Homo sapiens: one gene and its partners. The protein of the gene in region 1 purifies or fractionates together with the protein of each later gene. This does not show direct contact. Each region holds a gene or a part of one and is shown in the gene's direction. Other genes may lie near its edges.

Evidence for each region. The genes of interacting proteins can lie anywhere in the genome.
Region 2: the proteins of ANP32B (region 1) and FKBP3 purify together in Homo sapiens (affinity purification with mass spectrometry, with the first as the bait; one large-scale study listed by BioGRID). This does not show direct contact.
Region 3: the proteins of ANP32B (region 1) and SLC7A6OS fractionate together in Homo sapiens (co-fractionation; one large-scale study listed by BioGRID). This does not show direct contact.

What each region holds. Positions count from the first base shown.
Region 1 is NC_000009.12:97,986,341-97,989,840, forward strand, and holds part of ANP32B (acidic leucine-rich nuclear phosphoprotein 32 family member B), read left to right. Parts: intron 1-305; exon of another isoform or gene 306-475; intron 476-1,179; exon of another isoform or gene 1,180-1,463; intron 1,464-2,625; exon of another isoform or gene 2,626-3,500. UniProt on the Homo sapiens protein: Multifunctional protein that is involved in the regulation of many processes including cell proliferation, apoptosis, cell cycle progression or transcription.
Region 2 is NC_000014.9:45,117,482-45,120,981, reverse strand, and holds part of FKBP3 (peptidyl-prolyl cis-trans isomerase FKBP3), read left to right. Parts: intron 1-27; coding exon 28-95; intron 96-2,856; coding exon 2,857-2,954; intron 2,955-3,500. UniProt on the Homo sapiens protein: FK506- and rapamycin-binding proteins (FKBPs) constitute a family of receptors for the two immunosuppressants which inhibit T-cell proliferation by arresting two distinct cytoplasmic signal transmission pathways. PPIases accelerate the folding of proteins.
Region 3 is NC_000016.10:68,300,947-68,304,446, reverse strand, and holds part of SLC7A6OS (probable RNA polymerase II nuclear localization protein SLC7A6OS), read left to right. Parts: intron 1-214; coding exon 215-421; intron 422-1,937; coding exon of another isoform or gene 1,938-1,945; coding exon 1,946-2,066; exon of another isoform or gene 2,067-2,070; intron 2,071-2,627; exon of another isoform or gene 2,628-3,041; coding exon 3,042-3,172; 3' UTR 3,173-3,500. UniProt on the Homo sapiens protein: Directs RNA polymerase II nuclear import.

The sequences.
Region 1 (3,500 bases):
TGGTGCTTTTTGCACTTGGGAGAGTTGATGAGGCCTTGAGAGAGTGTTGTGGGAGCCAGCTAAGATTGTGGGGGTAGAGGAAGGTTCCCTTAGGGAGACTGAGACCAGTGGGAGTTAGGTACCCAGTTGGGCGAATAAAACTTTGACCTAAAAGTGAAGGGTTTTTCAGGAAAAAATGCTGTAGATTTTGAAGGAAATTCTAAAAGAGAGTTTAAAGTGTTTTCGCACAGAGGCGTCATCCTTAAGGCAAATGAAAAGTTTGGAGATCACTCTCTTAAAATCACATTCAGCTAGTCACATGATACCTTATGTGTGATGTGCTGGAACATGCCATAAACACCACAGAAATTGATGGCATTGTCAGCTGTTACACAGTAGGCTTGGCCTCTGGGATCCTGCAGACTTGTCGTGTGGGGTAACATGAAGAATCGTTTCCCTTGTTGAAGGTATACTGTTGTTGTATGAACAGGATGCCCTGAAATATACAGCAGTGTCCCATGGTTGACCTTAATGATTTTAAAGTCAAGTGAGATTTAAGGGTGTTTGAAGAGGGCGAATAGGGGTTTAATTGTAAATATGTTCTTACGTTTAAGACCAGATGGGCTTTTATTGTGTATATGGCTTTTTTTTAATTACTGGGGTTTGAAGAAGACCCTAGTAACACTTTTGTTCAGTTGGGCTCTTGTGTGTTCTGACCAAGGAAGACAAGAAGGTAAACACAAAAGTGTTACTAGGGTCTTCTTCAGTTCACCTGTTACTATATCCCTATTCCTTATAAACACAAGTATGCCCATTTCCCTAAGGGATGGGGGCGAGGGATTGTAAAGAAATACAGAATTTTATTTATTTTTTTCTAAGTCCAAAAGAGCTCTTATGGCAGGGTATATTCTCATAGTGGAACAAAATGGCCTAAGATGGCATTTTAAAGTAATCTTCATGAAGAATGGTGGTTACCATTTAAAAACATTTTATAGACAAGGATAGGAGATAGTTTGTATGACAAGGAAATATTTTATATAAAATATTGGCAGTTCACTGAGAGTAAATTGAACAGTGCTAGAATACACCATATATACACCATGGAAATTGGAGGTCTTGTCAGTAAAATGAGAAGACACTGACATGCAGTAGCTAGATATAAACCACATTTAGTTGTATTCTAAAATTGGAAAAGAATACCTGTTCTTTATGTGAGATTCTTATCCTTCCAGTAAACTGAACATGTCGCTCTGTTAGAAGCACCTCATTAACCACGCATCTGGGGACAGTCAGCCTTCCTATCAGCTCTGAGTTTTTCATTCAAAGTTAGAAAGCCAAGCAGTTCCTTACTGTGGCTTGCAGTCTATGCACCTGCGAAATGCTGGTGTGCTATATGCTGGACTGTGACATTTCATATACCAAAATAAAAGTCTTTACGTAGTCCCAATTTACTGAGAAAAAATGTAGATTGTCTTTAACTTCCATCTTTTTTTGATCCGCACCCCCTCCCCAGCTTTTGACCTCTTTTGTTGTGTCTACTGTGATGTAATTTTGAGCTCAATTGGATATTCTAGTTGGTTGCATAGCAACTAATTGGGGTTTTTTTCCTTGTATAAGTAATACATCTTCGTTTAAGAAAAATTAGATATAGATAGGCCAAAAAATTGTAGGTATAGACAAGCAAAAAGAAGATAGACATCATACATGCCTAACGTACCATCTAGACACTTTAGTGTATTATAGTCTACCAGAATGTTTAAATTTTTTCTAAACTTGGTTCATGCAAATAATCCAAATGCTAGCTAGCTTGTTGCTTTTTTTTTTAGAAAAAAAATACAGTCAACATCTTTGTGTGTGTCCTTATTTTATAGACTCATTATTAATGTCTGCATAGATCATAATTTAAACATCCCTCTCAGGTTGTTCACAGGGATTTTGGCTGTTTTAAATACTGCTGAAATGAGCATCTTATAATGTGATTTTTTTTTCCATCTGCCAGATTGCTTTTCAGAATGGTTCCCGTCTTTAAATACCCACCAGTAGAATATTGGTGTTTCCTTCCTTAATGCCAGCAGTCGTGCTACCTAAACACATTGGAGAACCACTAATAGAGATCCGTTCCAGGCTGGGCACAGTGGCTCGTGCCTATAATCCTAGCACTTTGGGTGGCAGAGGAGGGTGGGTCACCTGAGGTCAGGGATTCAAGACCAGACCGGGCAACATGGCGAAACCCCGTCTCTACTAAAAATACAAAAATTAGCCAGGTGTGGTGGCAGGCACCTGTCATCCCAGTTATTCTGGAGGCTGAGGCAGGAGAATTGCTTGAACCCCGGGGACAGAGTTTGCAGTGAGCCAAGATAACACCACTTCACTCCAGCATAGGCAAAAGAGCGAGACTCCATCTCAAAAATAAAAATAAAATAATAAAAAGTTCTATTAATTTAGAAACATTATTTTAAAATAATGGGTAGAAGATTTGAATACTGGTTAACTCAGAAGAATGGAAATTGCAAGGATGGCAGGAATTACTTTCTATATTTTGGGATTATTTCACTTACCATAATAACCAGTATTGTTCTAATTAAAAGAATTGACAACTCAGAAAGATCTTTAATTCCTCCATACCCTTTCCTCCTTTTATGGCAGAGACAGCTGGTATAATTGGAGAGCATCGCCCCACCAGTTAGGTAAAGTTGATCTTTTTTCATAATAGCTAGGGGAGTGGCAAATGAGCAAATTGAAGAGAATGAAAGGAAAAAAAATGTTTCCATCTCCTGTGGCCCCCAGCTCCAATCCCCAGGGATATTCCCATGACCTAGACTCATCATAACTTAAAGAAGGACCTCATAGGCATTTTGCCATTTAGAACTTAAAATGTGTTTTGTTTTTCATAGAGGTAGTGTTATAAATCATTGTTATATCCTCCAGTCAGATCTGAAAAGGTATTTGGCTGCAATATAGTTCAAATTTTTCAATGAAAAAGTAGTAGGAAACTACTGTTTGCTGGTAACTGTAGAAAACAAATATGAGTTAAGTAGGAGGTAGTATGGATTTTTCATTTTTAAGTGTTTACCTTAAATTTGTGTTTGAGAAAAGGCAAGTTTAATTGGAGCATGAGGGAAGAAGAGGAGTGAATTTGGCCCCAAAAGTTAAACTGTCCATCTTCAAGCAGAAGGCCAGTTAACTCTTGGATCAAATAGATCCCTCAGATTTAAGCACAAATGAACAAGTGCCTGCCTAACTTTCTTCATTAGATAGCAGCTCTGGGAGGATTTGAGATATAAGAAGAAACTAGGGCCTTTTCTCCTTTGATTAGGACCTCTGGTTTATTCTGAATCTAGATTGGGAAGCTGTGGGATCATCTTGACCCCAGCTCCACTCACTGTCTCAACTACACTCTTCCAAAGCTGTTATCTCCTTTGCAAGGCAGTCTAGATCTCTATACCCAGGAAGGAATGAAAAGAGATGAGGCTTAGTTACCTCTGTGGAGATCCACTGAGAACCCCAGAGTTGATATAAAG
Region 2 (3,500 bases), on another chromosome or scaffold:
TAATGATAAGGAAAATCTGTTTTACAGGTGCAAAGAAGAAGAAAAATGCCAAGCCTTTAAGTTTTAAGGTCGGAGTAGGCAAAGTTATCAGAGGAGTAAGTAAAGAATGCCAATGAATCAGTAGATATTCTGGCATATGCTGCTTCTGGTATGGTGCTGTAAAGAATTAGGTTTGGGGATATAATACAAAGGAAACAGACTTTGGAGTCTGACAGATTGGGTATAATCATTGTTAGCTGATCTTGCACAAGTTATCTCGGTCTCAGTTTCGCTACATATAAAATGAGGACAGTACTGCCTACCTCAAGGTTTTTAGAAGATTAAATGAGCATAACTTGAAGTACCTAATACAGTAGGGGCTTAAATATTAGTCCCTTCCATGTGTACCCATTTTATTATTTTTCTTCATAAAGTAAGTCTTTGTCAGAATGTTTGGCCCTCTAAATTTAAGGTTCCTGTAAAATGTCTTATAACTGTTGTACCATTTACATATAATTTGCAAAGGTAAAATATCTGTCCCACTGAAGTATTCACAGAAGCAGAGTTTGTTTCTGCAGCCTTTTCACCTCATACAACATAGGCTGCAATACCAGAAAATCATTCAAACATGAGCATGCTTTAACCTACACTTATATGTGAGAGATAACAGAAAGAAACTTTGAGAAAAGAGGAAGTTAGGCTTGACCCGTACTGACCATTATACTGTACAAAAGAAGATAAAAGAGTAGGGCAGACTGTCACCTTCTATGAATCAGGTTTTCATGCTAAGGCCTGCCCATTGTGCCCATTGTTTGTTTTAAATTGTTATTCTCAGAACATCAGACATCAATAACTGAAATGCCTATTTAAATGCAGTTATAGGAACCTTCAATATATTACTCTCTGTACAATCAGTAGGTCCTAAGATATGGTTCAGACAATCATATACAGAATATAAAACATCTTAAAACTAAAGGTTTAGTTGAGCATAACTTATAATTGTTACCTGCCCCAGCCAGGCGTGGTGGCTCATGCCTGTAATTGCAGCAATTTGGGAGGCCGAGGTGGGTGGATCACAAGGTCGGTCAGGAGATCGAGACCATACTGGCTAACACTGTGAAACCCGTCTCTACTAAAAATACAAAAAATTATCTGGGCATGGTGGCACTTGCCTGTAGTCCCAGCTACTTGGGAGGCTGAGGCAGGAGAATTGCTTGAACCTGGGAGGTGGAGGTTGTAGTGAGCTGAGATCACGCCACTGCACTCCAGCCTGGGCAACAGAGCAAGACTCCATCTCAAAAAAAAAAAAAAAATTGTTACCTGCCCGTACCAAGTTGATAGCAAGTATATTATCAAATTGGGCCATTTTTCTATTTCTGTAACTTATTTGCATACTGGTAAATTTCTTCTAGTCTACCGTATTCTTTTTTTTTGAGACGGAGTTTTGCTCTTGTTGTCCAGGCTGGAGTACAATGGTGCAATCTCGGCTTACTGCAACCTCTGTCTCCTGAGTTCAAGCGATTCTCCTGCCTCAGCCTCCCGAATAGCTGGGATTACAGGCATGCGCCACCACACCTAATTTTGCATTCCTAGTAGAGATGGGGTTTCATCATGTTGGTCAGGCTGGTCTTGAGTGCTGACCTCAAGTGATCGCCCTCTTCATCTTCAGCCTCCCAAAGTGCTGGGATTACAGGCACGAGCCACCTTGCCCGGCTAGTCTACCATATTCTTATTTTCCAAATGTGACCACCCTAACTTTGTCCCTTGTGCTTTATATGATTGTTGCATTTCAATACAGCATATAATATTAGGAATATTATCCCTTTGGTGATGTGGATTTAACTGTTTGTGGAAACTAGCTTTAAGATCCAAATTTGGAAAATATGGAGAGGCCAACCCAGAAGACTTTTATTGTTTCTTTGAAAAGTTAGTTTTACCTTTTGCAAAAGATCTTAGTGCCGTAACATTTTAAAAATTGTATTTCCAAAATTAGCTGGGCATGCCTGTAATCCCAACTACTAGGGAGGCTGAGGCAGGAGAATCGGTTAAACCCGGGAGGCAGAGGCTGCAGTGAGCCAAGATCACGCTATTGCACTCCAGCCAGGGCAACAAGAGCGAAACTCCATCTCAAAAGAAAAAAAGAAAAAAATGTATTTTATGTGCCAACGTGACTCCACTATTACAATCTGGTAATCTTAAAACAATTTTACAGTGAGTACTTGCCAGTGTATTCCAATAAAAATAAACTCGTTTGTCCTGTGATGTAAAAGTGTTGCAGGTTTATGATGGTGCTAATAACTAACTGGTTTTCATAATGTATGGCATGTTACAGTTTACAAAAAGTTTTTTTTTTGTTTTTTGTTTGTTTGTTTGAGAAGGAGTCTCACTCTGTTGCCCAGACTGGAGTGCAGTGGCTCAATCCTGGCTCACTGCAACCTCCACCTTCTGGGTTCAAGTGATTCCCCTGCCTCAGCCTCCCGAGTAGCTGGGATTACAGGCACCCACCACCGCACCCAGCTAATTTTTTTATTTTTAGTAGAAGATGGGGTTTCACTATGTTAGCTAGGCTGGTCTCAAACTCCTGACCTTAAGTGATCTGCCCACCTCGGCCTCCCAAAGTGCTGGGATTATAGGTATGAGCCCCAAAAGGTTCTTTTCACATTAAAAAAGCCCTGCTTAAAATACCCTTTTTTTTCTATTGAAGAAATGGAAGACAAAGATTTAGGGACTCACTGAAGTACATTATCTTAGAATATAGTGAAATCTATAGTAATAGATTCTGTGTTTGTTTTAACATACAATCTTGTCTTGACTGTCCTGGTATTGCATGTGCTTTTTGCAAAATACCATTAGTTTTTATTTTGTTCTTGCCTTTAGTGGGATGAAGCTCTCTTGACTATGAGTAAAGGAGAAAAGGCTCGACTGGAGATTGAACCAGAATGGGCTTACGGAAAGAAAGGACAGCCTGATGCCAAGTATCCTTTTTTCCCCTTCATAATTAAAGTTGAAAAAAAAAAAACGTCTAGATCACCTTTGAGGATGTGAAAGATGCTGTCTAGGCAAACTTCTGGATCAAGAATCCTGTCCAGACTAGTCTTCCTGATCTTTAGATGCTTATGTGTCAGCACCTCCAATAGGCAATAGTATTTTCTATTGATATAAAGTTCAAACCTCAGCTAGAATTTTTGTTTCTCTTATTCAAATTCTTAACTTTCAAGACCTTAACTGTGAAGTTTAAGCTTAAACAGCAATTCTTAATGTTTTTAAGAGTTTAAGAAAAGTTACCATGCCCAGTACAAACTGTAGCAAACTACGATGCAAATATGGCTCATGGTAATTTTATGGTACAGTATAATTTCAGGCAATTAAATTCAAAGCTTAGAAATGGAATAGATGTGGGAGATTACCAGTTGTGAACTGAAGGAGACCACAGAATCAACAGTGTTAGTGTAAGCATTTATTATTACTACTAATGACAATACTCACTGATAAGTCCAGTTTGTGAACATTTAAAAAAAAAA
Region 3 (3,500 bases), on another chromosome or scaffold:
TGGGAGGCTGAGGTAGGAGAAACGCTTGAACCTGGGAGGCGGAGGTTGCAGTGAGCCAAGACCACGCCACTGCACTCCAGCCTGGGCGACAGAGTGAGACTCCGTCTCAAAAAAAACTGTAGGGAGCCTTCCTTCACCCAACTCATAGGTTCCTCCTCTTGGAACATCATGTTTTGGGTCATGCGTGTGTGTGTAATCTGTGGTTTCTTTACAGACATCTGACCCAGATGTGATCCTCTGCAATTCTGTAGAGTTGATCCGTGAGCGATTGACTGTGTCTGAGGATGGACCAGGAGTCAGGCGCCAGGAAGAACAAAAACACGATGACTATGTGTATGACATTTACTACTTGGAGACGGCCACTCCAGGCTGGATTGAGAACATCCTCTCCGTGCAGCCCTACAGCCAAGAATGGGAGCTGGTAAGGGGGCCCATGAGCAGACGGGGCATGAGGCATCCTAAGCTCTTAATCTAATCAGAATGCTTTGCTTCCCTGGGCTCCACTCCCGAACAACATTGTCCTTAGTTCTTTTCCTCCTGAAAAGGAAGAAATTATTCTAAGTGCCTTTTAGGAACCTGACTTTATAGTACAGGGAATTTGGGGAAAGATCATCTTAGATTGATCATTTTTACATTAATGAATATTTTACAAGGTTTGCAACATCACCTTTATTGTTTATAGCTATCCATTCTTAGGGGGGAAATATGTATATGGGGCTTATGATAAGATAAAGACGATAAAATCAGAAATTCTTAACATGAGTGACAACAAAATCTATTTTTTAATTCGTACCTTAGAAGTAGAGAAACCTCGGATGAAGAAAGCTAACGTCCTGACATTATTCTTTTTTTTTTTTCTTTTTTGAGACAAGGTCTCACACTGTCACCCAGGCTGGAGTGCAGTGGTGCTATCTGAGCTCACTGCAGCCTCTATCTCCCAGGCTCAAGCAATCCTCCTATCTCAGCCTCCCAAGCAGCCAGCCAGGAGTACAGGCATGCACCATGATGCCCAATTTTTGTTGATTTTTTTGTAGAGGCAGGGTCTCACTATGTTGTCCAGGCTGGTCTTATGGTCTTGAACTCCTGGGCTCAAGTGATCCACCTTGGCCTCCCAAAGTGTTGGGATTACAGGTGTGAGCCACCACACCTAGCTGACACCATTATCTTTTTTTTTTTTTTTTTTGAGATGGAGTCTCGCTCTGTCACCCAGGCTGGAGTGCAATGGTGCAATCTTGGCTCATTGCAACCTCCGCCTCCTGGGTTCAAGCGATTCTCCTGCCTCAGCCTCCCAAGTAGCTGGGACTACAGGTGCATGCCACCATGCCTGGCTAATTTTTGTATTTTTAGTAGAGACAAGGTTTTACCATGTTGCCCAGGCTGGTCTCAAACTTCTGACCTCAAGTGATCCACCCACCTCGGCCTCCCAAAGTGCTGGGATTACAGGCGTGAGCCACCGCGCCCAGCCTATTCTCAAATTCTAAAATGCTTAACAAGAAAACTTAAGGTGGCACCTAATGGTCATGCTCAGACTATAATCAAGAAGCACTGCATCCTGCACCTGCATTAGGACAGATTTGCAGTCAGGTACCCACCTTGGACCACTGCATGGCCCTTCCTCCTGCCTTTCCGCACCTCTTACGCTTGGGTTTTGGTTTTGACCTTTGGAATTTGAAGGAATCGCTCAGAGCCATCACTCCTCTTTTCCCTGTGTTCCCTTCTCATGGGGTCCAGCATGTCCTATCATTGTGGAGCTGGGCTCTGAGTGGAAGGGGGCTATTATCTCCCTCTCATAGCCTCTTGTGCAATGGAGTCAAACTACTAGTCTGCAGTTTTTTCACAGGGCACTTTTACATGATATCTCTTCAAGCTGGTATGCTAACAACTTCCCCCAGAGCATAACCTTAGAGGTTTTGACTTGGACTCATGTTTGTGTTGAGATGTGTAGGTGAATGATGATCAAGAACCAGAGGACATTTACGACGATGAAGATGACGAGAACAGTGAGAATAACTGGCGCAATGAGTACCCAGAGGAGGAGAGCAGTGATGGAGATGAGGATTCCAGAGGTGGGTGGCAGCCCCAGACCGGGAGGGACTGGTAGGATCTGAGACTGAGGTGCAGGCATAGTTGACAGGTGCATCTTAATTGCCTTTCCTTCTCTGTCATTGAGCGCCAGCAGCCCAGCCGCAACTGAGCCATGCTGTAGGAGACCCAAAGACCAGTGTTTCCCAGGGGCCTCCTGGGGGTGTAATAATCCATCAGGCCTGGATTCAAATCTGTAGTTGTCATTACTTTGCTGTGGCTCTTGGGCAGTTACTTCACCTCACTGAGCCTCATTTTCTCTCCAAATGAGATGGTTCTGCATGAATTTTAGTGGTTGAGATTATGTAAAATATGTAGCTCATTGTCTCTTCCCCTGCCCCAGTCAAGAAACCAATGAAGAGAGAGGTTTGCCAGTAGGAATAAGCCCAGAGTTTTCACAAATCAGTTATCTAACTTCTCAAAAAACTGCTGCATGTACAACTGTTTTGAGAAAGATGCAACACAGACATAATACCTGGGGGAAGAAGAAAGATGCTCTGACAACATAATTCCCGTAGTAACTATATTAAAGAAGAGAGAAGAAGGCCCAACAAAAAGAATTTATTGGTGTCTGATAACAGAGAAATGAATCAAACAATTGCATATTCTTTTGGGGAGGTTTGTCAATAACACGTTAAAAGGAGAAAGGTACAAAAATATTTACAATATGACTACAACTCTTACAACAACAAAAAATCCTATACGGAGGGGAGAAGTGACAAAATACTCCACGGAGGGGAGAAGTGACAAAATACTCCAGTGTGAAGGAACTTGGTTTAGATGATAGGAAAGTGATTCCTTCTTTAAAAAAAAAAGAATTCTATATTCTTTTTTATTTATTGAGCAAGGATTTTGCATTACAATCGGGAACAAAAACAGACCTTTCTGAGAAGAGAAGGGGCTCCTGCAGTAGCCTAGGAAAATCACATTTAGAATCCACTCCCGGGATGTCATTCTAGGCTCTGCTGACTACAACAGCCTGAGTGAGGAGGAAAGAGGCAGCAGCAGACAGCGGATGTGGAGCAAGTACCCTCTGGATGTGCAGAAGGAGTTCGGCTATGACAGCCCCCACGACCTGGATTCAGACTGATGGTCTTGTGATGTCCATGAGGTTCTGCCACATGCCCTTGAGGGCTCTGAGTCCAGAGTTAACTGCCCTGCTGACATCCTGTTAGGTTTCCTAGCTTAACATGTGGAAGGAAAAGCATATCAAGCATATCGGGCGGCACCATCCCACCACAGTGAAAACTTATGTTAGGGGAGTGAGTCTTTTCCACTTACAGTAGGACCCCTTTGCCTCAATCAAAAGTGACCCTACAGTTTGAAAGAAAAAAAAACGTTGAAAAAAGGAAGGTTTCTTTAGCTTTAGCTTCTTGGCCCAGGAATTTTTCCTGGCATTCAGGTTCTGTGCTGAAACC